Regions from separate parts of the Homo sapiens genome. Here all the other regions are linked to region 2. Evidence: fine-mapped expression QTL. A gene starts in region 2. Each other region holds a variant in brackets. All regions are shown on one strand. Distances are between the middles of the regions.

The links. PIP is the estimated chance that this variant, and not a neighbour inherited with it, causes the effect. A credible set is the group of variants that fine-mapping cannot tell apart.
Region 1: its variant is the best candidate, but not a certain one, in a credible set for the expression of NXNL2 in tibial nerve (GTEx, PIP 0.69).
Region 3: its variant is the best candidate, but not a certain one, in a credible set for the expression of NXNL2 in lung (GTEx, PIP 0.65).

What each region holds. Positions count from the first base shown.
Region 1 is chr9:88,491,208-88,499,389 of GRCh38, reverse strand. No RefSeq gene overlaps it. Among named protein-coding and RNA genes, the nearest start is that of NXNL2, 40 kb to the left of the region's middle. RefSeq lists an enhancer at 3,365-3,906. The variant G/T (reference allele first, on the strand shown) is at 3,470.
Region 2 is chr9:88,531,282-88,539,463 of GRCh38, reverse strand. NXNL2 (nucleoredoxin like 2) reads right to left here and starts at 4,286. Exons shown (of 2, transcript NM_001161625.2): 1 at 3,728-4,286. The coding sequence starts at 4,029. LOC105376134 (a long non-coding RNA gene) reads left to right here and starts at 4,924. Exons shown (of 2, transcript XR_007061653.1): 1 at 4,924-5,450. RefSeq lists enhancers at 2,832-3,665, 3,666-4,500.
Region 3 is chr9:88,971,351-88,979,532 of GRCh38, reverse strand. It overlaps the pseudogene PCNPP2. Among named protein-coding and RNA genes, the nearest start is that of S1PR3, 16 kb to the left of the region's middle. The variant A/G (reference allele first, on the strand shown) is at 3,832.

The DNA.
Region 1 (8,182 bases), 40 kb after region 2:
AGCCATGTGTGGCTCATGGCTACCATCCTGGGCAGCACAGACAGAACATTTTCTCCATCACAGGGAGCTCTATGGAGCTTCCTTAGATCCTCAGACCACAGGCTAAGTTCCCCCCCAACACACTCAGCCTGCCCCTTCTGTAACACGGGCGTGGTAACAATGCCTGTCAGGGTAAGGTGACTGTGAAGAATTTTATGCTCTATATAGAAAACATACACATGGATCGAAGTCCCTGTGTGTGCCTGTGTTCTGTGGTTCATTAAATTTGAGCTCTTACTACAATGAGAAGGGCATGACTTGGGCTCCTGCCCAGTGCCCTTGGGCAGGCACAGTTCTCCTTGAGTCCTTATTTTGTTGGGTGTTAGTAAGATGTGCTCAGCTAATCTTACTAATCTTACTTTGGCTCCCGGGTGTTTGGAACGTTACTTTTACAGCTAAGCTTACTTTGGCTTCCAGGTGTTTGGAACGTTCCTGGCCTACACAAAATTTCTCTCCATCTTGGCTTCTTCCAAGAGGTGCTTCTAAAATTCCAAGCTGAGGCAGCTTGATCCTGGGGAGGTCCAGCCAGCTTGGTACTCACTTGGAGAGTGTTTATAAGCGGCACTGTCTTGATAGTAGCTATCCGCAGACAACACGAGGAAGGAAATTATAACCGAGCATAAGGTCCTATCCCCATATGTATGCTCCATGTCAAGACATTTCTGTGCCCGTCTCCCCTAAGTGAGAGTTTCCAAGCGTCTCTCTAGGTCCTCACACCCACAAATCCAAACAATGCTTTATTCTTAAGAGACTTTCATTCAAAGATACCCTGGTAGATTAGATTCTACTTCTTAACAGCAACTATCAAGTAATCATAATTCTAAGAATTTCTTTTTTTTTTTTTTTTTAGACGGAGTTTCACTCTTGTTGCCCAGGCTAGAGTGCAGTGGTGCGATCTCAGCTCACCGCCACCTGTGTCCCCCAGGTTCAAGCGATTCTCCTGCCTCAGCCTCCCAAGTAGCTGGGATTACAAGCACACGCCACCATGCCCAGCTAATTTTGTATTTTTGGTAGAGAAGGGGTTTCTCCATGTTGGTCAGGCTGGTCTTGAACTCCTGACTTCAGGTGATCCGCCTGCCTTGGCTTCCCAAAGTGCTGGGATTACAGGCGTGAGCCACCATGCCTAGCAATTCTAAGAACTTCTTTGGATCAGTTATCAAATGGAGATTTAAAAAGGCAATCTCAAACTTATAACAAAGTCTCTGGGGGCGGGGGTGCACTTTCGGAGGCAGCCTCCCAATCCAGCATGGCTGCTGTGTATCCATTAACTGTTATTCATTACTGCTATAACCACAATTTCTCCAAAATAGAGAGGAAAACACCCTGCCTAGGCCAGACACTTGGCTTTATTCTTTGGCATGTAATTTAGATAAGAATATCACTGATACTCAGTGGGGCTAGCACACACACACAGACAGACATAAAATCAACCAAAGCAGGTCTGGAATGGCTGCTGCCTGAGTCTTCTGTGACACGGGGTATAACGTCCAGGTTAAGGTTTTCCCTGTCAGAGGCAGACAGTGGCATCATTCTAATTCCCTTTTCCCTTGGCCTCAAGCCCATCTCACAGTTCTTCTGCTGTACAAAGAAAGTAACCAGTTCCCAAGCGCAGCCACTCCACCTTCACTGTAGTACAGGCATTCTTAAAACTTGAATTTGCACGTGACACTACAGATTTTCAAATATATACAGAGCATTCAGGTGAAAGCACAGCTCTCACAACAGAATGAGTGTGGTTGGCATGACCTTGAGTTGCTCTCCTCAAAAACTGAGACAGGGCAAACATGGACACATAAGAATGGAGAGTGAGGCCCATTGGAGCCCCAAAGGCACATCTTCCCTTTAGATCTGGACCCCTGCTATCATTCTTGGGTGGATCTTGGAGAAAGATGCATGTCCCAAGCCTGAGAGGAGACAGGGCCCTGGCAGTCACTGCCTGTGGGGACAAGGCTGGAGCTGGCACTGGACTGACCGCTAGCTCACACAAAGATGATGCAGTCCATGGAAACAGTGGGAGGGCCTAGGGTGGCTTGCAAAGGACACCAAAAGGGAAATATAGAGGGGATCCCCAGTCACACCAGTAAAGCGAGAATATCCCTTGAATGACAGCAGTGGAACCTGACATGGAGAAACCTTGTGACCAAAAACACACACAGAAGGCATTAGAACAGCAAAAATAAGGTGCTCCCTCCAGCAAGGGATTCCAGTAGAAGAGACTCTTGAAATCCATATGAATTGTTATCCCAAACAGCCTCCGTAACATCTCGCCTCCAGACTGTCCCTGCTAGCATCTGCTCCTGGATGGCATTCTGTTTCGCAAATGACTTTCCCTTTCCCCACCCCAAAGGCCTCTGACATGTTTGATCTGTTTCTCCCTCAAAGTCCAGGGACTTTGGCAGCAAAGGATTAAACATACCTTTTGCTTCCTTCTCTCATCCATGTCCATTTTGGACACGGGAAGGAGGCAGCACAAGGGAACGTGAAGAGCCAGGCCTGACTCTCGGGCGAGCCCCATGCATGGTCTGGTGTCAGTGGACGCGCTACGGAGTGCACCCGGCCCTGTGCAGGACCTTGATGGGATATTTTCCCATATAAATTGACCCTGGTGCTGGGCTGACTTGTAAGATCGCCTCCATAGCTAATTTTTCTCAAAAAAACTTTCAAAACACCCCACAGAACCACAGATGTCAGATGACCACCACTGCTTCTGGCCCTCCACACTGTCATCTGTGTGCTCTCACATTTGCTCCAGCCAGCACATTTCAAATCCACACAAACATGGTGCAGGGCATATATGCATGGAGCATGCACAAACGAGTTTCCTCCCATCTCCAAAGTGGGCTCTGGAAGGTTCTTTGGCAGAGCCGGTTTCTCACAGCAGTAGCCTGAATTCTTTTTTTTTTTAGACGGAGTCTTGCTTGTTGCCCAGGCTGGAGTGCAGTGGCGTGATCTCAGTTCACTGCAACCTCCACCTCCCAAGTTCAAGTGATTCTCCTGCCTCAGCCTCCCAAGTAGCTGGGATTACAGGTACCCACCACCACACCTAGCTAATTTTTGTATTTTCACCATGTCGCCCAGGCTAGTCTTGAACTTCTTTTTCTTTTTTTTTTGAGAGAGTGTTTCACTCTTGTTGCCCAGGCTGGAGTGCAATGGCATGATCTCAGCTCACTGCAACCTCCGCCTCCCAGGTTCAAGCAATTCTCCTGCCTCAGCTTCCCAAGTAGCTGGGATTACAGGCATGCACAACCATGCCGGGCTAATTTTGTATTTTTTAGTAGAGATGAGGTTTCACCATGTTGGTCAGTCTGGTCTCGAACTCCTGACCTCAAATGATCCTCCTGCCTCAGCCTCCCCATTACAAAGTTGGGATTACAGGCGTGAGCCATCACGTCCGGCCCGAATTTTGATGGAGGGAAATCCTGGTGAGACC[G/T]CTCAATAGTAACAAAAAGGGGGCTCTTGGCCACAGCCCGATGACCCAAGTCCACCTCCTCACAGTTCCCACCCTGAGGGCAGTGCCCTCCCTAGCACAACCAACTTAATTCCCAGCTAAACTCACCTAAAGCAGATTTCAGATAAAGAACTACAAGGAGTGAAAATAAACTGCATGAGGGTCTATACTCAGCTTAACTGTTTTGCTTGTATTCTTGGGGTTTGGTTTCGGCCTTTTGCACTCTGGTCTGTGGGCCATGTCTTTGGGATCTGCCTTTCTCACTGGCTAACCTTCCTTGAGTCTCCAGGCAGGACCGGATTTCCAGCATCAGGAGGGCCTGCCCAGGGCCAAGGTACTTCGTTGAGCGCTTGGTCACTTGTGGGCCTTGCAGCACGGTCTCGCTCACTCAGCCCTGTCCCCTGCAGTGTCCACAGGCCGAGTGACAAGCTGCTTCCGGGAGCGCATCTCCGTGGCTGTGCCTGGATGCCCAGCTCAGCCAGCACTTGTAGCTTCTTGTGTTCCTGTTCTTGATCTCAGCCACTCCTCCCGCGCTTTTCAACAAGAGCTTTGCAACTCATGACAGCCTCCTCCTCAGGATCTTTTGGTTTTCACCATTTTCTTTCCTAAAGGGGAAACCTTTAGCTTTTCAGGACTTCAGCCCTGTCACTGGTCACCAGATTTTACCCGGAGCACCATGGCGATCAGGGCCCCCCTCAGGCATTCACCTCATTCAGACACAAGTGGATATCCTATCACACAGGGCACTGGGTCTAGTCCCAGGGCTTTGAATGGAAGCAACACGCCACCTGGGAGCTTGTTAGCAATACAAGTGCTAAGGCCCGGCCCGGTGGCTCATACCTGTAACCCCAGCACTTTGGGAGACTGAGATGGGAGGATCACCTGAGGTTGGAAGTTTGAGACCAGCCTGGCCAACATGGTGAAATGCCATCTCTACTAAAAATACAAAACGTAGCCAGGCATGGTGGCGTGTGCCTGTAATCCCAGCTACTTGGGAGGCTGAGGTGGGAGAATCACTTTAACCCGGGAGGCAGAGGCTGCAGGGAGCTGAGACTGACCCACTGCACTCTAGCCTGGGCGACAGAGCAAGACCCTGTCTCAAACAAAAGCAAAAAACAAATTCTAAGGCACCAGCCCACAACCACAATCATAAACTTCTTCCCACACTTTCCTTTTAGAATTCATGTCTCATCTCAGGAGCCTTGAACAGCTTTATTGAGGTGGAATTTACATACAGGTCATAAAATCACCTATTCTACTTATTTTAGTAATTTTAACCAATCTTAAACATTCCCCTCATCCCAAAAGGGCTCCTTGTGCCCATTCGCAGCTACTGTCCACAGGCAGCCCAAATCCCAGCCCCCTGCTAATCCACTTCCTGTCCCTACAGTTTTCCCTCTTCAGGACATTTCATATAAATGGAACCATACAATACATGGTATTTTCCCCTTGGCTTCTTTCATTTTATCAGTTTTTGAGGTTCATCCATGTTGTAGCATGTACTTCGTCACTTTTCATATCTGAGCAAGATTCCTTTGTGCGTATATAACCTACTGTGTTTATCAATTCACCAGCTTATGGAAATTTGGGTTATTTCCAGTTTGGCACCAAGAATAGAGATACAAAGATCTATATGAACTACATGATGCAGCTACAAGTATTAGTTTACAAGTTTCCTATAGACATATATTTTAAAATTCACATGGGTCTATTCCTACGAATATGGTAAATTTGTATTTACCATAGGAAATTACCAAACTGCTATCCAAAGGGGCTGCAACTAGTTTCTCAACACCCTGACCAACACTTCTTACTATCTTTTATTATAGTCACCCTAGTGTGAGAGAAGTGGTATCTCATACTTTTAATTAGTATTTCTCTAATGGCCAAAGATGTTGAGCATCTTTTCAATGTTTATTGGCCATTTTATATCTTCTTTTAGAGAAATATCTATTCAAATCCTTTGTCTTTTACATGAATTACTTCCTGAAGATTTCTTCATACATTCTAGATATAAATCTTTTATCAATATGATTTGCAAATACTTTTTCCCATCTGTAATTTTTTTCATTTCTTTAATGGTGGCTTATGAGACACAAGTTTTTAACTTAGATGAAGTCCAATTCATTAGTTTTTTTTTTTTTGTTTTTTTTTTTGAGACAGAGTCTCGCTCTGTCGCCCAGGCTGGAGTGCAGTGGCACAATGTTGGCTCACTCCAACCTCTGCCTCGTGGTTTCAGGTGATTCTCCTGCCTCAGCCTCCTGAGTAGCTCGGATTACGGGTGCCCACCATGCCCAGCTAATTTTTTTGTATTTTTAGAGTAGAGATGGGCTTTTTCCATGTTCGCCAGTCTGGTCTCCAACTCCTGACCTCGTGATCCACCTGCCTGGGCCTCCCAAAGTGCTGGGATTACGGGTGTGAGCCACCGCACCGTACCAATTCATCAATTTTACCTTTGAAAGATTGTGCTTTTGGTGTCACACGAGAAATTTTTGCCCAACCCAGAGTCATGAAAATTCTTGCCCATGTTTTCTTCTAAGTTTTAGAGTTTTAACTCTTACATTTGGGTGTATGGTCCATTTTGAGTTAATTTTTGTGGAAAATATAAGGATCTAAATCCATCATTTTGCATGTGAATATCCAATGCTTCAAGCCTCATTTGTCGAAAGGGCAAATCTTCTCCACATTGAAATGCCTTGGCACCTGTGAGCAAAACTGATTAAGAATGAATCTAAGGGCTAATTTCAGGACCCTCAAATCTTCAATTGATATATACATATATATGTCTATCCTTATACCACATTGTCTTGATTACTACACCTTTATAGTAAATTTTATCATTTGGAAATGCTCCAAATTTGTTATTTTTCAAGATTTTTTTTTTGACTATTCTGAGTCCTTTGCATTCCCATAAAAATTTTAGGATCAGCTTGTTAATTACTGAAAAAAAGCCTGCTGGGATTTTGATAGGGACTGCCATCTTGAGTCTTCTAACCTATGAACATGGAATGTCTCTCCATTTATGTAGTCACTAATTCCTCTCAGCCATATTTTGCAGTTTTCAGTGTACAAATCTTGCACTTTTGTCAAATTTATTCTGAAGTATTTTGATTTTTTTTTTGAAATGGAGTCTTGCTCTGTTGCCCAGGCTAGAGTGCAGTGGCGTGATCTCTGCTCACTGCAACCTCTACCTCCCAGGTTCAAGAGATTCTCCTGCCTCAGCTCCCCAAGTAGCTGGGACTACAGGCATACACCACCAGACCCAGCTCATTTTTGTAGTTTTAGTAGAGACAGGGTTTCACCCTGTTGGCCAGGCTGGTCTCGAACTCCTGACCTCGTGATCCTCCCACCTCGGCCTCCCAAAGTGCTGGGATTACAGGCTAGAGCCAACGCACCCGGCTCTATTTTGACCTTTTTGATGCTACTGTGGACAGTATTGTTTAGTTTTGTTTTCACAATTTATTGCTATATTGCAATATAGACATATACAACTAATTTTCGTATATACATCTTGTATCTTACAACCTTGCTGAACTCATCAGCTCCGTTGTGTGCACACGAGTGTGGTTATATGTACCCTTTAGGATTTTCTACATACAGAATTATGTCATCTGCAAAGCAAGACAACTTTATTTCTTCCTTGCCAATCTGGATGCTTTTCCTTGCTTTATTGCACTGGTTAGAAACTGCAGTACAATGTCAATAATGAGGGGTGTGTATAGACACCCTTGACTTACTACTGATCTTAGGGGTATATTCTCTCGTCGTAAGTATAATGTTATCGGTAACTTCTTTTTATGGATGTCTTTTTTTTTTTTTTTTTTTGAGATGGAGTCTTGTTCTGTCGCCCAGGCTGGAGTGCAGTGGCGCGATCTTGGCTTGCCGCAACCTCCGCCTCCTGGGTTTAAGCGATTCTCCTGCCTCAGCCTCCCAAGTAGCTGGGACTACAGGCAACTGCCACCACGCCTGGCTAATTTTTGTATTTTTAGTAGAGACGGGGTTTCACCATATTGGCCAGGCTGGTCTCAAACTCCTGACCTCAAGGGATCCGCCCGCCTCGGCCTCACAAAGTGCTGGGATTACAGGCATGAGCCATCGCACTTGGCCTATGGATGCCTTTTATCAGACTGAAAAAATTATCTTCTATTCCAGTTTTTTTCCATTTTTATCATGAATATGTGTTAGATTTTGTCAAATGCTCTTTCCCCATCATTTGAGATGACTCCTGCCTTCTGTCATCTATTAATAGGTAAAATACATTGTTTTTCTGGTATTAAACATGTCTCACCTGGCCATGTAGCTAAATCTTTCTATATGTTATTTGACTTGTTCATGGTTTTTTGTAACTATCAATATTTTCATGAGGGATTTTCTATCAGGGTAATACTGGTTTCACAGAATGAGTTGGTAAGTATTCCTTACTCTTCTTCTTCCTGAGTCTGTGAAAAATGGTATGTTTTCTTCTTTAAATGTTTGGCAGCACTCTTCTTGTTTTGTATGCTTTCAGGAATAAACCAGAGGTCATCTAAAAGTGACTGAGCTTCATTGCTGATTAAACTACCAACATCATTTGTACTGATGCCTGAAGGTTTTTCCCCATCAAGAACAGTCCCTTCTTAATAGCCAAAGGCAGATAAGGGTCACCTGGCTGGGGCTATAGGTAAAACTAAGCCTGGCTCATGAATGGGCAAGTCA
Region 2 (8,182 bases):
TATCTCAGGAACCTGGAACCTCTTCCCCAAGGCCATGAGGACTCCTTGGAGGGCTGCTGGTGGGTCGTGAAGGGGTTGGGATGCCAGCAGCAGCAGCAGCAGTATCTCACCTACAGATTCCTGAGCACCCCCAGGTCCGACAGCATCTGCACTCCTGACAGATTCCCAACTGACATGGGTCCATGCACCAGCCTTTGACCAGCACTGTCAGGAACAATATGGGGTCCCAGGAGCAGCAACACCAACATCACCTGGAAACTCATCAGAAATGCAATCTCCCCACCTCTGACGCTGGGGCAGTGCCCAAGATCTGGTGGTTTATGCTTGCTCAAGTTGGCCAATCCCACAGCAGTCTTCCAGGGCTTTCTGCATCCCCTGCACCAACTGGGAGGAGGTAGGAGACAGCAAGCGGAGAGGAGGCTGGGCATGGTGCCCCTGACAGCACGGGGAGTACAGGCCTGTGGTTTGCTGCTCAGCATCTGTGACCCTCCTTGGGAAACCATGTCTCCTTCATTTTCTGGCATGAACTAGCTGTGTGTCATGGGCAGGCTAGTTAACCTCCTGCACCTCGGATTCCTCATCTACACCACGGGAATAACAGAATCCACCTCCTGGAGTTGTTGTGAGGATTAAATAAACAGCTTAATGAAGAATGAGGCTTGGCACATAATAAGTACTTGATAAATGCTAGCTGTTCTTACTGTGTGGGAAAGACCCACCTCCAATTCCACCTGGGCCAACTGCTCAGTCAGCATATCTATCTGGTGGCCCCTGGCTACACTTAATAGTACAGAAATGGGGAACTAGCCAAATCAGAATCAATGAGGCGTGGTGCAGCACCTGGCTGTGTGCTGGGAAAGAGGAAAGTACAGGAATGCGCAGTCTGAGACACAGCAGCCATTCTGCCACCGTGAGGAGACACAGGATTTGCCAGGCAGCAACTGCCTGCAGCCTGAGCAAGGGGCAGACGTGGCAGAAGGCGAGCCACAAAGCTGCATCCTCCGTGGCCTCCAGCTTGCCCTTGACACCATCTTCTGGCTGATGGGTGTCTCATTAAAGCCAGCCCATAACCTTTACTGTTCAAGCTCTTTGAGTTGTTCTCATTGCTGCTGTTTTAATCACTTGCAACATTAAATCAAGCTCTAACACAGTCAGGGGGATGCAGAGCAGGCTGGGCTTTGAGGAATCAGGAGGGTGGAGGTGGTCATTTCACTGATATTCCAAGAGACACTCAGTACCAGCCCTCAAATCCCCATGCTGGCAGCCTCTGCCTGGGGACAAATGTAACCTTGGAGCTGCACATGAGAGGCAAAGAACCTCACTTTTTCCCTAATGTCATCTCAATCCCCTCTGGGCCCTGAGCTGTGTCCACAGAGAAAAGAACTTGCTTTTGGAGGAGAGAATGTTGTCATGGTAATAACTTAGGACTTTAAGCATTTGGGGAAAATCCAAGAGCCCAGTTCCTCCTTGTCCTCAGCACTGTTGCAACCAGCGTTGGTCCCTGCCTTCAACTAACACAGCCACATCCTTGTTGCTGGCATAAACCACACTTCTGGGTTGCCATGGCAACTCCTGACTCTAGTCTGTCATCTCAGCCAGGAGCAGGCTGTGGCCAAGCAAATCTCTCTGCAGAACTGTCTTTTGCTCACTTGCTTCAACTACTCACCAAACACACTCCCTGGGGATGCCAGGCACTGAACCATGTCTGGCTCTGTCCTGTGGGCAATGGAAACTCAGGAAACCCCCGGAGAGTTGGAGCAAGGCATGGCTAAACCGGATTGGTCTTTGAACCAAGAGCCAATCAGATGGGAACACCAAGGTCCTGTAGACGTAGGATAAGCAGAATTTAGGGCGTAGCTCCAACAATTCCCACAGAATATCCCACTACCTAGCTTACACATGACAACAACAGAGTTAAGGAAGTTCAGTGTGGAAAGGGGTAGGGACAAACAGCTAAGTTTACAAAAAGAAAAATCCCTCCCAGGCCAGCCAGGCTGAGAAGATAGGAGCACACAGCTGACCCACGTCACGCAGCTCACTGCCTCCAGCTGGAGCTCACAGGCTTGACCAGAGCATCAGAAACAGACGAGCAGTCTCCATGGCCCCAAGCGATGACCTCCCCAGTCCAATCTGTGTGCCGCTGGGGACCAAGACTCACCACCCCCTCAGTGAGGAAGTAGGGCACGGCAGAAAGAGGGTCCTCAGAGCCAGGAGAACTGAACTCTATGCCTCAATGGCACATCTGTAAAATGGGGCAATAGACTAGAGAGCTGGGACATAACCAGCGGACACATGAGCTCATATGTGATCAGCTCAACCCTGACAACAACCACGTGATGTATCATATGCTCAGCAATAAAATACCTTGCCTGCCATCACCTGGCAAGTAAATCCCAGAGCTGGGCCAGAGCTTTGTGCCTAATTACTATAATGATACTGCCATCGTCTCTCGCTTTCAAACCTGCGTTCTTTCAAAAGCTTACAAATAACTTGAGTACTAAACAAGTCCAATCCTGTTTTTAAAAGCACCACTTGAACTGATTCTGTAAGAAATCCTTTTGCAAAGTGAACCACCCATCTTGGAGATTCATTATCAATAGAACTTTCAGAGTCCCGGTGTGAGTGAGGCTCCCAGAAGCAGGTTACCCCCCTGGAAGGCTGGGCGGTGCCCTGCCTGGGCCTCCTCTTTCACTGGGAATCACCAAAAATCATGTTTGGGGGAATAATTAGATTTCTTCCCATTAATTACTCATCTACAAAACTTTCCAAAGTTAGCTTCCAGTTTTCATTTTCCAGAAGGAATGTCATCTCATGATAATCAGTTTAGGGGGTAATGCCACAACTTAATGATAATCTCCAGAAATGTGAGGCTGTAAAGCAAAACCCAGAAATTCACATTGGTACCTAGAAGGGGGTGGCCAGGACAACATACTTGACGAGGCCTGCTTTAAACCTAAGTCTGGACTCTTACACCATAGGAGACCACAGGAGACCCACCCCAAAAGCAGAACAATCAATCCCTGTAATCCCCTCTCTGCCAATCCCTACCCCCTCCTTTGCAACAGTTAGAGTAATAAAGTTTATAGTAATGAGTTTTATGCTTCTCTAGTGATGAAATTCCATCAGTGTCGGTAAAAATGAAACCGCAAAGGTGGCCAGCACCTGGGTTCCTGCCAGCCTTGAAGCCCCCGTCCCTCCCTCCCAGCAAACCAACCACGGCCTGCACTGTGGGTGCCTGTCACAGAGCTGATGTCCTCGCGGGTCATCCCTCATCCCCGCATCCAGACACCGGGTCATGTCCCTGTGCTTCCTGCCCACTAACTGGGAGGATGACGCAGCGGCGCCGGGAGTCCAGGGCTGATTGGGCCGGCGGTTCCCGGAGCCGAGCCCGCGAACTCACAGCATCACCACCACTGGGAGCTCCTTCGCAATGCAGATTCCCGGAGCTCCAGACCCCAGGCAGAAACGCGCCCGCGTCCATGCTCCACGAGCCCCCTTGGGGTGCCGATGCCCTGGGTTTTCGAATCTGGTCTGCACCCTCCCTGGTCTCCAAGAGAGGTTGAAACTGAGACTGAGTGTGATTTACCGGAGTCCGGACGTGAACCGAGAGACGGGGAGGTGTTGGGGGGGGGCGTCATAAAGAGCTCCCCAGTGCAGAGGGGGAGGCCTGGGGGAACATGGGGGAGACGTGCCGGGCGGCCCCCGCCCCCCCAGGACCCCCACTCACTGCCGGTAGGGGTCGTGGAAGGGCAGCGCCAGCCAGGCGCCATGCAGCTCGCGCATGAAGTCCAGCATCTCCTGGGAGCTGCCGTCGGCTGACACGAAGACCACTTCGAAGGGCGCGGGCCGCCGCGCCTCGGCCACCAGCGCCGTATAGAAGTCGCAGAGCAGCGGCGTGAAGTCGCGGCTCGGCGCGCACCGGGCCGCCGCGAAGTACAGTGCCACCACCTTGTTCTGCAGCGCCGCCTCGGCCTCCACCGTCGCGCCCTTACAGGTCACCAGGTGCCGCTCGCCCAGAATGTCAACCATGGCGCAGACACGCAGCCACCTGAGACCCGAGGACACCTGCAGGAGGATGATCACCTGCGGGGAGGCGGCGGCGAGCGCCGCGGTGCCCCGCCTCTGTCCGCACCACCGGGCGCTGGACCTCTCAAGACCTGCCCCAGATGCGCCCACACCTTGGCCAGGCCTCGCCTGTGGCTGGAGCAATTGTGTTCGCGCCGACAATGAGACACTCAGACACCAGAGACCCCAGATACCTGGGCGACAGCGCGGCACCCGCCTCTGGGAGCGGGGCCAGCCAGGCAACCTCAAGCCCTCAGGTCTCTGCACCCTCCCCCAACTGCGCCCCGCCCACACTCCTGCGCCCTCCCACCACTGCGCCCCGCCCACATTCCCCGCAAGCTCCCCAACTGCGCCCCGCCCACATTCCGCACTCTCCACCCACTGCGCCCCGCCCACATCCCGCACTCTCCACCCACTGCGCCCCGCCCACATCCCCGCCCCCGCCCCCACTGCGCCTCGCCCGCATCCCCACACTGTCCCCCACTGCGCTGGGCCCACATCCCTACACTCTCCACCCACTGCGCCCCGCCCACATCTCCGCACCCTCCCCCACCGCACCCCGCCCACATCCCCGCACTCTCCTCCAACTGCGCCTCGCCCACATTCCACAGTTTCCCCTCACTGCGCCCCGCCCACATCCCCGCACTCTTCTCCAACTGCGCCTCGCCCACATTCCACAGTTTCCCCTCACTGCGCCCCGCGCACACTCCCGCTCCCTCCCCCACTGCGCCCCGCCCACACTCCCGCGCCCTCCCCCTCACTGCGGCCCGCCGACATCCCGCGCCCCCGCCCCCATCCCGACTGCGCCCCGCCCACCTCCCGCGCCCTCTCCCACTGGTTGTCCAGCCCACATCCTGCACTCCCTCCACTGCGCCCCGCTCACACTCCCGCACCCTCCCCACACTGCGCCCTGCCCACACTCCTGCACTCTCTCCCCACTACGCCCCCTACCACATCCCGCGCCCCCGCCCCCATCCCCACTGCGCCCCGCCCACACTCCCGCGCCCTCGCGCCCCTGGGCTCTCCCGTCGTGGGCACTCTCCCCAGCGCTTCTACACTTTCTCCCGACGCAGCGCCCTGCCCTCCGTCCCGCCCCACCTATTGCCTCCTGCGCTTCCCCCACACCGTGCTCTTCCTCCTCCTTCACTTCCTCCCACTCCTCGCGCTCCCCTTCAGCGCCCCACGCAGCCCCTCCCCCAAAACCCCGCGTCGCTCTCCTTCCCTCCTGGCCTCTCTTCCAGTCTCGCGCTCCCTGCCGGGCCCCGCCGCAGGTGTCCCGCAGCCGTCTCCCCAGGGCATTTGAATCTTGCCTTGGAGCTCTTGCCGCGCGGCCCAGCACCCTGGAAGAGGCATCAGGGAGGATGGGACGACGAGGAAGGGGAAGGGTAATTGGGCTTGGAGCGGGCTTGGGCGGGGTGGTAGGGAACCTGAGCTCCGTTGGTTCAGGGTGTTTGCCCCTGACATCCTGTGGCCTGGCTGGGAGGGTTCGTGAAGTTCAGGAAGAAATTGGGAGCAGTCCTTACAGAATGTTTTATTTGAAGAACCAAGAGTATTAATTTTTTGGCGAGCACTGTTGTAGGCCCTGGGAATTCAGCAGTGAGAAAAATAATTTCAACTCCCTGCCAGACCCGGGCTAGAAGGAGGCAAGCGAGCGAGGCACTCGCATAGGGGCAAAATTTAAGGGCGCGACAAAAAAACTCAGTAGTCAAGGTAAATAATGTTTTAATACAATATCTTAAAAAGTCAAAATGAATGCAAAAAAAGTTTATAATGAACAAAATATCAAAAACTTAAAGACAGTGAATGAAACCAAAATATGCCATCCTAAAATATGCCGCTTTGGTATATTGATTATTTTGAGCGAGAGGCACTTGAAAAATAGCAAATGCAGAGAGACGTTCTCCCCTTACCTGTCTAAAGACGGAACCTCCAAAAGAAACTGATTGTCGTAAATTCCCTCCCGGGAGGATGGACTCTTATCACAGCAGAAGTCCACACCACACCTAGACAAACTTTGTCACAAACTCATAAAGACTTATGCATCTTTCCTAAAAATCAGTTACTCTCCCCTAAGTGGCCTACACCAGCTTCCAGTTCCCCAATTTTAGAAGCTCTCAAAGCTCACTGGTTTGGGGGGTTTTCACCTAGTTTCCTGCAATGCCCCCATGCAGGTGATATTAAAGATTAATAAATGTGTATTCCCGTTCCCCCCGTTCATCTGCCCGTTGGCAGTTAATTTCATAGAGCCAGCTATGGAACTGGGGAGGACAGAGAGAAGGTCTTTGCTCTCCTAAGACAAGATGGATCCCCCACTGACTTTGGACTCCCGTCACGTTCACCGACCCCTGAGTCCTGCTCCTGTGCCTGCCTGGAGCTTATGTTCTAACGGGCACAAACAATAAATAAGGAAGATATTTTGCAGGTGCTATGCCAAAAGAAGAGCCATGAGGAGGGGCGCAGGTTTTTGTTTTGTTTTATTTTGGTTTGGTTTGGTTGGTTGGTTGAGATGGAGTCTCGCTCTTGTTGCCCAGGCTGGAGTGCAATGGCGTGATCTCGGCTCACTGCAACCTCCGCCTCCCGGGTTCAAGCAATTCTCCCGCCTCAGCCTCCTGAGTAGCTGGGATTACTGGCGCGTGCCACCACGCCCAGCTAATTTTTGTATTTTTAGTAGAGACGGGGTTTCATCATGTTAGCCAGGCTGGTCTCAAACTCCTGACTTCAGGTGATCTACCCACCTCTGCCTCCCAAAGTGCTGGAATTACAGGCTTGAGCCACCGAGGGGCGCAGTTTTAATCTAGCGGTGAGAGGAGTCAGGGAAGGTGAAATTTGCGCTTCCTGAGGACCCGCCTGCCGGCCCGGGCTCCCCCAGTCTCGCCGTTAAATGAACGGAAATTGGCGGACGCCGTTGCCTGCAGGCACAGCCCGTCGGCTCGGTTGCGTAAATGTACTTAGCAGCCAAAGCTCAGTGGAAACCCTGCGGGAGGATTGATTGGCGCTCTTAGGTGAAGCAGGCTGTCAAGAGCCCCGATTCACTGTCCTCTGGGGAAAATGGATAGACAAATCGGAGGAAAAAATTGAGAGGAACTGTGAGCAGTATAAATCTTGCATGAGGAGGCCCCTGACTTACGTTAAAACTCAGAGGTAAGAGGAATGAAATGCAGCTAAGCTCTCAAAATCATCCAGACTATTTTGTTTTGTCATCTTATCCTTGAACACACAATGAGCCAAAGTAGACAGCATTCCTAATTAGTTGACGGTGCCACCCTCCCGAGAAAATTAACGGTCATTCGCATTAATACTGCCTGCCCTGGGGAACTCACCCAACCTCCATCCAGGAATGGATCGCACTTCCTGCTGCCGATGTCGGGGGCAGGGCGGCTTCCTAGGCATGCAGACCCTCAGAGGCACAGGGCCCTGCACTCACTTGGGGCTCAGTGTTCTGCGGTTGCAGTCTTTGTTGTTTTGTTTTTTGTTTAGAAACTGAATCTCACTCTCTTACCCAGGCTGGAGTGCAGTAGTGGGATCATAGCTCACTGCAGCTTCCAACTCCTGGGCTCCAGGGATCCTCCCGCCTCAGCCTCCTGAGTAGCTAGGACTATAGCCACATGCCACTATGCAAGGCTAATTGTTTTTATTATTATTATTATTATTTTTTAGAGATGGGGTCTCCCTCTGTTGCCCAGCCTGGTGATTTTTTTTTTTTTTTTGGATGGAGTCTCGCTCTGTGGCCCAGGCTGGAGTGCAATGGCGTGATCTCAGCTCACTGCAACCTCCACCTCCCAGGTTCAAGTGATTCTTCTGCCTCAGCCTCCCGTGTAGCTGGGACTACAGGTGCACGCCACCACGCCTGGCTAATTTTTTTATTTTTAGTAGAGACGGGGTTTCACCATATTGACCAAGCTGGTCCCTAACTCCTGACCTCGTGATCCGCCCGCCTCAGCCTCCCAAAGTGCTGGGATTACAGGCGTGAGCCACCGCACCCAGCCAAAATTCTTAATTTATCTTTGAATTTGTGTGGTATATGAGAGGTCTTGGACAGTGGCACATATGTGAGTGTTTGGACCCTAGCTCATGTGTGCTCCCACCTGCCACTGCCTCCCTACCTCCCCAAGACAGG
Region 3 (8,182 bases), 440 kb before region 2:
AGACCCCTCCATGAGAAGGAACTGGGTTATCTTCTCATTAGGCAAGTGGGGTGGCAGGAAACTGCACATAGAAATACCATGGACTTGGTTTGGAATCATGTTGCTGTTCCTGGAGCCTGCGGTCTCAATGAGGAATGGCTTTTTTCTAAACTATTCTCTTTCCAGACAATGCAAATACAGCACATAGAACTCCAAAACCTTGAGCCACAAATCCCAGGATCCCTTGGGTAAGCTGGAGGAAGGCTAGGGGCTGCAGGCTCTCTGTATCCAGAGAGACATGCTCAGGGCTGGTGGCCGGCTTGGCCATTTCCTGCTTCATGGAACTGAGCTTGGCACCAGCACTTCTTGCCATTTCTCAAGTGGCTCATTGCCCTTAACTCTGACTTTTAGATGACCACATGGCTCCCAGCTGTAGACTTTATTTTTCCTGAATTTATCCACTTATCTCCTCTTGGTTAGCCTGAGCATCTAAACTTAAAATCATAATGCTACAAAACTTTTTCTTCCTTTTTTCCCTTTTATTTATCCTTAAATGCCTATGTGCCCATTATAGTCATTGAAGCCCTGGTACATCCCGCAGTCCCCACAACTTTTATTGAATGGAATTAACTGTATTCCTTATGAATTACAGATGATTTTTTCTAGCACGGTGGCATCTATTTTCAGGTGATTATAGACGATTCTGAATTACCTTTGGGGCTTCAGACAACAGGTTAGGCCCTGCAGGTAGGCGTTTTTCTGGGTTTATCATTTACCTCTGCTTTTTATCTGGTTTTGCAAAATCCTAAAGCCACAACTAGGATCTTGCATCTGGGGGCTTTCCTAATTAGAGATTTCAGTCCTAAAGCAAAGATCAGAAGCTGTCTTAGACTTCTGGAGTTGAAGGACTCTGGTCATTTTGTTTCTTCCCTTTTTGTTTGGGACAGCAAGAGACAAGAAAGTCGTGGGGAAGGGAGGCGGGGATGGTGTTGATGGGCTTGTGTGCTGGGTTTATGAAAGACTGAGGGCATTTATAAAGAAGAGCTTCAATGTTTCTTAAGTACAATTCTTATTAGGCGACTGTATAAAATTCCATTTTAATCATTAAAAATGGCGGTGCAGGTGGTCATTTCACATGGCTCAATGTAACACATTCTCCTGGGAAACAGCCTTTCTTCATCTGTCCTTTCCCTACCAAAAATACACAGGCTTCTTTCCTCTTTTTGTCCCTCGACACCCTCTTCCAACAAGCCTCCTCTCATCCCAGCACTTCCATCCCAACCAACCACAATATTTACCGGTTCCCAGGAGACAGCCGTATTTGATGTGGTTTGCAAACATCAGCATTGTAGACCAAATGGGAATGGGCTTGACAGGAAGCTGATGGGAGAGAATTCTCCTGGTGTGAACCCTTCAGGCTTCCCAGTGGCAGTAAAAGGAGGAGGAGGAGGAGACGGGGAGATGATCATTAATGAGCCTTCTGCGTAGCTTCATCCTGAGATTCCAGCTCAGGCACCCAGGGATTTGCTTTCCTGTGCTCCTGAGTCAGGTTTCTTATACCCAGGGCCCATGTTGTTCCCTTTCTTGGTTCTGGAGGAAAATCTAGCAAGCTCACTGTCAGCACCCTCCTCGGCAAGTCCGAGTTGCAGCCTCTTCCACTTTGCTAAGCCAGTTTCCACCCCTCCATCCACTTCTCTCCCAAACGCTTGCTGTCTTTCTCCCTAATGTCGCTGGCCCAGCTTTCTTCATCCCTTTGGCCTTCAAATCTGGTAAATTTATTGCCGCTAGAGTGGAGTTTCAGGAGTGTGAGAAGGTAAGTGTGGTGAATGCAATATATTCAGGTGGAAAACGCATTGGGTTTTAAGCACAGGGAAATCATCTCGTTTTAAACAATAATAACAACAGCACAACATTTCCTTAGACAACTTCATCCTCCTCCTGCCCACAGCTACCATCTTTCCTCATCTTCCTAGAAAAGTACTATTTCCTCTCTTTCTCCTCAGCTCTCTCCCATTTAGCTTGAATCCATTACTGCAAGCAGAGCACCTCCTGCTAACGCTGCCCAGGTCCTCGGTGCCTACACCACTGCCCTTCTCCTCCATCGTGACCACCCAGCCAGCTCTGCCAGTACGGATCCTGCTTTGGGGCAGTTGTTTTTCCCTAGATCATCTGTTGATTCTCCTGTCTGCTACTCCTTTGCTCTACTTTGCAGATGCCTCTGGTTTTACTCAGGGTTGCACCTGGGGCCTTCTCATTTCTAATTTTCTCTTTAATTTCCATAATAGTCATGCATCGTTCACAACTTCACTCTTCCCAATCATGCCTCGCACTGTAGCCAAAGGAGTCTTCTCAAAATGCCCCTCTATAGCTCCTCAGCTCCTGGGGTGAAGTCCACACTCTTGCACGGCCTAAGTGCCCTGTGTATCCTGGCTCCAGCCACCTCTGCCTTGTCACACCCATACTCTCTCGGCTGTCTCCTCCCCACCTTCAGAAAGCTCATTCTTGTCATGCTGCCTCCTGCCACAGGGCTTTTGCTGTCCCCCCTCCTTAAGCGTTTGCCTCCTTGCTTACCACATTAAATCCCACACATGTTCCAGACAAGTGGTCCTTCCTGCAGGAAGCCTTCCGTGATATGTCTGATTTGCTCCATATTACCTCCTGGCCATTGAAGAGGTAAATCTCCCCTAATTCCCCTTCCTTCATCCCAAATTGGATTCTGCATCTGCCTTCAGACCTTGCTCCCCACTCTCCAGAAGGCTTGGATCTCTGTTACACTTGAGCAACACATTTGTGAGATTTTTCCTTCACTCAAGCCAGTTTCAAGGCATGATGCAGAGGGTTGTTTCTGTCTTCCCACGCGGTAGAAACATAGTTTTTACTCACTTCCGCCTGCTTTGACATGATGGAAGTTCCTGACCTTTCTTGAGGAGGGGAGGATTTATCTTTTTTCAAATTACTCACATAAACTGATCTTTTTATTTTTAAAATTCACATAATTAAAATGCACATTAACATTCAGGATGTGTAGACTATTTTCAGTCTCACCCTGGCATGCCACAACCACCCCATGCCAGGACCTGGCACTCAGGAGCCCTGGAAGTTCTCCTGGGGAGTCCTGCATCCAGACCTGCCTGCTTACCTGGGGGTATCAGCTTGATGACCCTCCTGGTCGGGGCTGGAGCTGTAGAGGTGGCCAGATGTGCCCAGCAGAGCCACAATGCAGAGAAAGAACAAGGTTTCATCTCACTTACAGTCTTCCAGGGTCAAGAGATTTTTATTCACCAAATTAAAATGTTCGACAGTTGGTTGCTTAATACAAGCGGGCAGGAGGGACCAGGGCCCTGGGAGAATAGACAGCCACTTTGGCTAGATTCCAAAAGCTGGAGACAGTAGAAGTGTAGGCTCAGCAACTCTGTGGTCCTGAAGCTCAAGAGGACCCTGAGAAAAGGGTGGAGAAAGAAACTGTGTGTGTGTGTGTGTATCTGTGTGTACAGCAGGGATCTCAGAACCTTACAAGGCAGTTTTCTGTAGGCAGGACAGGCTGATTTGAAGTGGTTGCCCGGTTTACCTCCCTCGGGCTCCTTGCTGATCAGTTGCTTCTGATGCCTTGGGGATCTGACAATATATTTGGAATGTTTTATGCCAATTACCGCTTTGGTTACTAGCACTTTCTTTCTTTCTTTTTTTGAGACAGAGTCTCACTCTGTTGCTCAGGCTGGAGTGCAGTGGCACGATCTCGGCTCACTGCAACCTCTACCTCCCGGGTTCAGGTGATTCTCCTGCCTTAGCCTCCCGAGTAGCTGGGATTACAGGTGCCCACCACCACACCCAACTAATTTTTGTATTTTTAGT[A/G]AAGACAGGGTTTCCCCATGTTGGTCAGGCTGGTCTTGAACTCCTGACCTCAGGTGATCCACTCGCCTGCCTCAGCCTCCAAAAGCACTAGGATTACAGGCATGAGCCACTGTGCCCGGCAGTTACTGGTATTTTCAATTCATTTTCTACTATGTTGGAAGAGAATTTAAGATGAAAACAGTCTTATTTTTCTCTCACTATCAATCTTATTTGATTCAGATGTCAAGAAAGCAAGGTGTTTTCTGTGTTAACCTAGAATTTTTAAATACTGCTGCTGGTATTATATTATGCTCTCCTAAATTTGCAGGACAATAGCCATGCTGTGAGCATCCACAAAGTGGAAGATAAGATCCACTCATTATTCAAGCAACATATATTTATATTCTTGTCACTTTTAATGAAATTTTCAACATAAACTTGCTACATTTATCAGTGTTCTTTCTGCCATGCACTCTGTCACATAGAGAGTAAATTCCAGGGCCCTTTAAAAAGAAACTAGAACATATGGTTTGGACAACTAAGTACTTTCTGCTCTCCCTCCCTCTCTCTGTCCCTCCCAACTATCATTCATTGATTTCTTTATCTAATCCATTAACTAATGTTGCCATGCCAGGCCCAGAACTGGCACTGGGAGCACAGTGATGAATGGGACTAAATATCTGTCCTCAAAAAGCCTATAATCTAGGAGAGAGGGAAGAACAGAAGATAGAAGTGGTGACAAGTATGACAGCTGCTCTCATGGAGGGGCAGCAAGACTGGAAGCATGCAGGGTGGGGCAAAGGCCTCCTGACAGAGGAGGGGCTTGCCCTCCAGCTTGCAGGACACACACACACACACACACACACGCGCGCGCACATGCATGCACATGTGTGGCACAGACCCCAGCCCCCAGCTCAGGGGCGCTGGGAAATGGAGCTAGCCTGGAGTGTTCCAGCTCTCTGAGCATTGCCATCTGTGTGTGTGTGTGTGTGAGAGAGTGCATACACGTGTGTGTCTGTCTCTGTATTTACACGTGCATGTTTGTGCATGTGTGATTGTGTGGGAATGTAAGAATGTGTGTAGAATGTGTGTAAAATGTATGTTTTGTGTAGTGCGTAGTGTGTGTGTGGTATGTGTGTGTGGTGTGTAATGTGTGTGCCTGTGCGTGTGGTGCATGTATGAATATAAGTATGTGTTGTGTAGTATGTGTGTTGTGTGTAGTGTAGTGTGTGTGTTTCTATGTTGTGTGTGGTGTGTGGTTTTTGTTGTGTAGTGTGTGCTTGTGTGGTGTGTGTGTGTGTTTGTGTGTGGTGTGCATTGTGCAGTTTGTGTGGTGTGTGTGTGGTGTTGTGTAGGTTGTTGGGTGGTTGTGAGGTGTGGTGTGTGCATGCGTTTGTGTGTGGCATATGTGAGTGGGTTGTGTGTTGTGTAGTCTGTGTATGTGTGGTGTGAGGTGTGTGTTTTGTGTAGTCTGCATGTGTTTGTATGGTGTGTGTGTTGTGTAATCTGCATGTGTTGGTTTGTTGTGTATGGTGTGTTGTGTGGATGTGTTTGCATGTGGTGTATGTATGTGTGTGGGTGTTGTGTAGCCTGCATGTATTTGTGTGTGGCATGTGTTGTGTCATCTGTTTGTGTGTAGTGTGTGTGCGTTGTGTAGTTTGTGTGGTGTGTGTGTGTTGTGTAGGTTGTTGGGTGGTTGTGGGGTGTGGTGTGTGCATGTGTTTATGTGTGGTGCATGTATGCGTTGTGTGTTGTGTAGTCTGCATATGTGTGATGTGTGTTTTGTGTGTGTTGTGTAGTCTGCATGTGTTTGTTGTGTGCGTGCTGTGTAGTCTGTGTGTTTGTGTGTGTGGTGTGCATTGTGTAGTTAGTATAGTGTGTGTTGTGTGGTGTGTGCCTGTGTTTGTGTGTGGTATATGTGAATGTGGGTTCTGTGTTGTGTAGTCTGTGTGTGGGGGGGTGTGGTGCGCATTGCGTAGTTTGTGTGTGTGTGTTGTGTGCATGTGTTTGTGTGTAGTGTATGTCTTTGTTGTGTGTTGTGTAGTCTGTGTGTGGGGGGTGTGGTGTACATCGTGTAGTTTGTGTGTTGTGTGCATGTGTTTGTGTGTGGTGTATGTGAGTGTGTGTTGTGTAGTCTGCATGTGTTCGTGTGGTGTGTGTGACTGTGTGTATGGCACGTGAAAGTGTGAGTGTGTGTCTGCATTGCAGGGGCCGGCAGTGGGAAGGGAGAGATGCTGAGGATCCCCGCCTGGCTCCTGGAGGTATCCCGGCCTTTTTGCAGGCTTCACAGCTGGTGGGTGTCCTGGCCTGGGGGCATTAGACAAGCAAGGCTTCAATGATGAGGCTGGAGCGTCAGACCCTGTGGAATCAGGGAAGCTGGGGACCTTAGCTTCCTGAGGTGGCTCGATAAGACTTTGCTCAACCTGAGCAGTGGCACCTAGCAGAAGCAGGCGGGAGGATCCCAAGCGGACATTTTCTTTAAAGCTGGTGGTTAAGGTTCCTAGACAGGCACAGGGAACTTGTTGGATAAGTCCCAATCACCCCCACTTCTGCATATATTGGATCAGTGTCCCTGCATTGATGCTGTTGCAGCGTCCTCATTTTCCAAGCGCCCATGGCCTAAGAAAAGGCCAAACAGGACCTAATAGGTGTCTGAGGAGGCTGAGAAAAGAGGCTGGAGGCTGACTGCTGGTCTTGGAGACTCCCCCCACCGGCAGGGGGCTGAGGAGGGGCTGCGGGGAGCAGTGAGACCTCTGGAAGCTGCACAGTGGTTCACAAGCGTGGCTGCACATTTAAATTCAGAGGAACTTAAAGCAGCACTTTCACCACACTCCAGCCCAACTGAACACGAATTTCAGGCTTTGTGGTTTTGAACCCCAGATAATTAGGTTTGTGATCGAGGTTGAAGACCAGCATCTGCCTAGTTCCTAGTGTGGTCCTGGGATCACCTGTGTCTAGACTGTCCAAGTTACAGAGCTAGATCCTTAGACCTAACACAGACTTGGGGTCTGAGGCTATGGGTGGGCCTGGGAACCTGTATGACAGTGCAGTTAATAGGATATTTTTAGTTACACCCCAGTCAAACCAAACCGATTGGGCTCCACATAGGGCAAGGGAAAAGTAAAGAAAGGATGCTTGGCTGGCGGAAAAGGCAGGTGGCCCCACTAAGCATCAAACATGTGGCAGGGATAAGCCTGGGCTCTAGGGGGTGTATAGCCGTGAAAAGAGCAGGCTCTGCTGTCAAAAACATGTGGGAGGCAGACAGCCTATAATTAACATGTACAATAAAGTGTGCAAATGCTGCATGTGCAGTGCAGCGTGAAAATGATACATGTATGATGCAGAGTATATATGCTGCATGTGTGATACAGGATGTAAGTGAAACACGTATGCTGCAGGGTGTATCATATCCTGGGTGTAGGCGATGCATGTATAATGCAGAGTGTGAATGCTACATGTATGATGCAGGCTGTAAATGCTGCGTGTGCAATGCTGGGTGCAAATGCTTCATGCCGTTGGGCCCTGGCACTGAGGTGTGTGCTGGTATCTCCCCAGTGTAGTGATGTCTCAGAACCTGAAGGATGAAACATTGGTCAGAGTTCTTGGTTGCAGACAACAAAATCCACTTTAAAAAAAGAAAAAAACTGGATGGGTCTTAGTAAATTATATTAGTTGGCTTCCACAAGTTCTGGAACAGAGACCCAGCCTGGACACTACCTAGCCAGGAATCAAGCAGCCCTGAAACCACCAGCGACATCCAGAGAGACACTCTGGGGAAAAGCTGTTGCTGCTACCTCTGGCCCTTAGCACCCTCCACACAGAAGCCTGGTCCCCACCACAGCTTCACCCAAAGCAAACTAATGCCCCAGAAGCTGACCTCAAGGGCTCAGAGGCGGAGAAGCTGTGTGAGGGCCGCGGGGAGTCGGGAATGGCAGGCACAGGTTGGTTCTGGGCTTCCTGTTGCCCTTCCCTGCTGAGTTTGGTCAGTTACTTCACTCTGGTGTGACCAGGCAGCCTCTCCCTGGGGTTCCAGCGTGCCCACAGTGAGGAGGTGCTTCCTCCGCAGCTTCCATAGGGAAGGAAGGCAGAGGCCTGGGGAGGCCTGGCCTGGGCTGACCGCTGAGGCTGCTAGAAACGCCACCCTCTGGGCCCCTGGAGCTCTGCGCCAGGGACGGAGGCAGACTGTGGTGGGTGGACAACAATGCGCTCACTCTTGCGGAATGTTTTAGAAACCGTAGCTTCTTTGCTTGCTTTCTATAAACATGTATATTGTCCATCAATGGCAAGCGTACTTGGAGGTCTTTTTGTGTGGACTGGCATGGGCAGTCAGGCAGAAACATGCTTTGTCAAGAACACAGAAGGGGCGGCCACA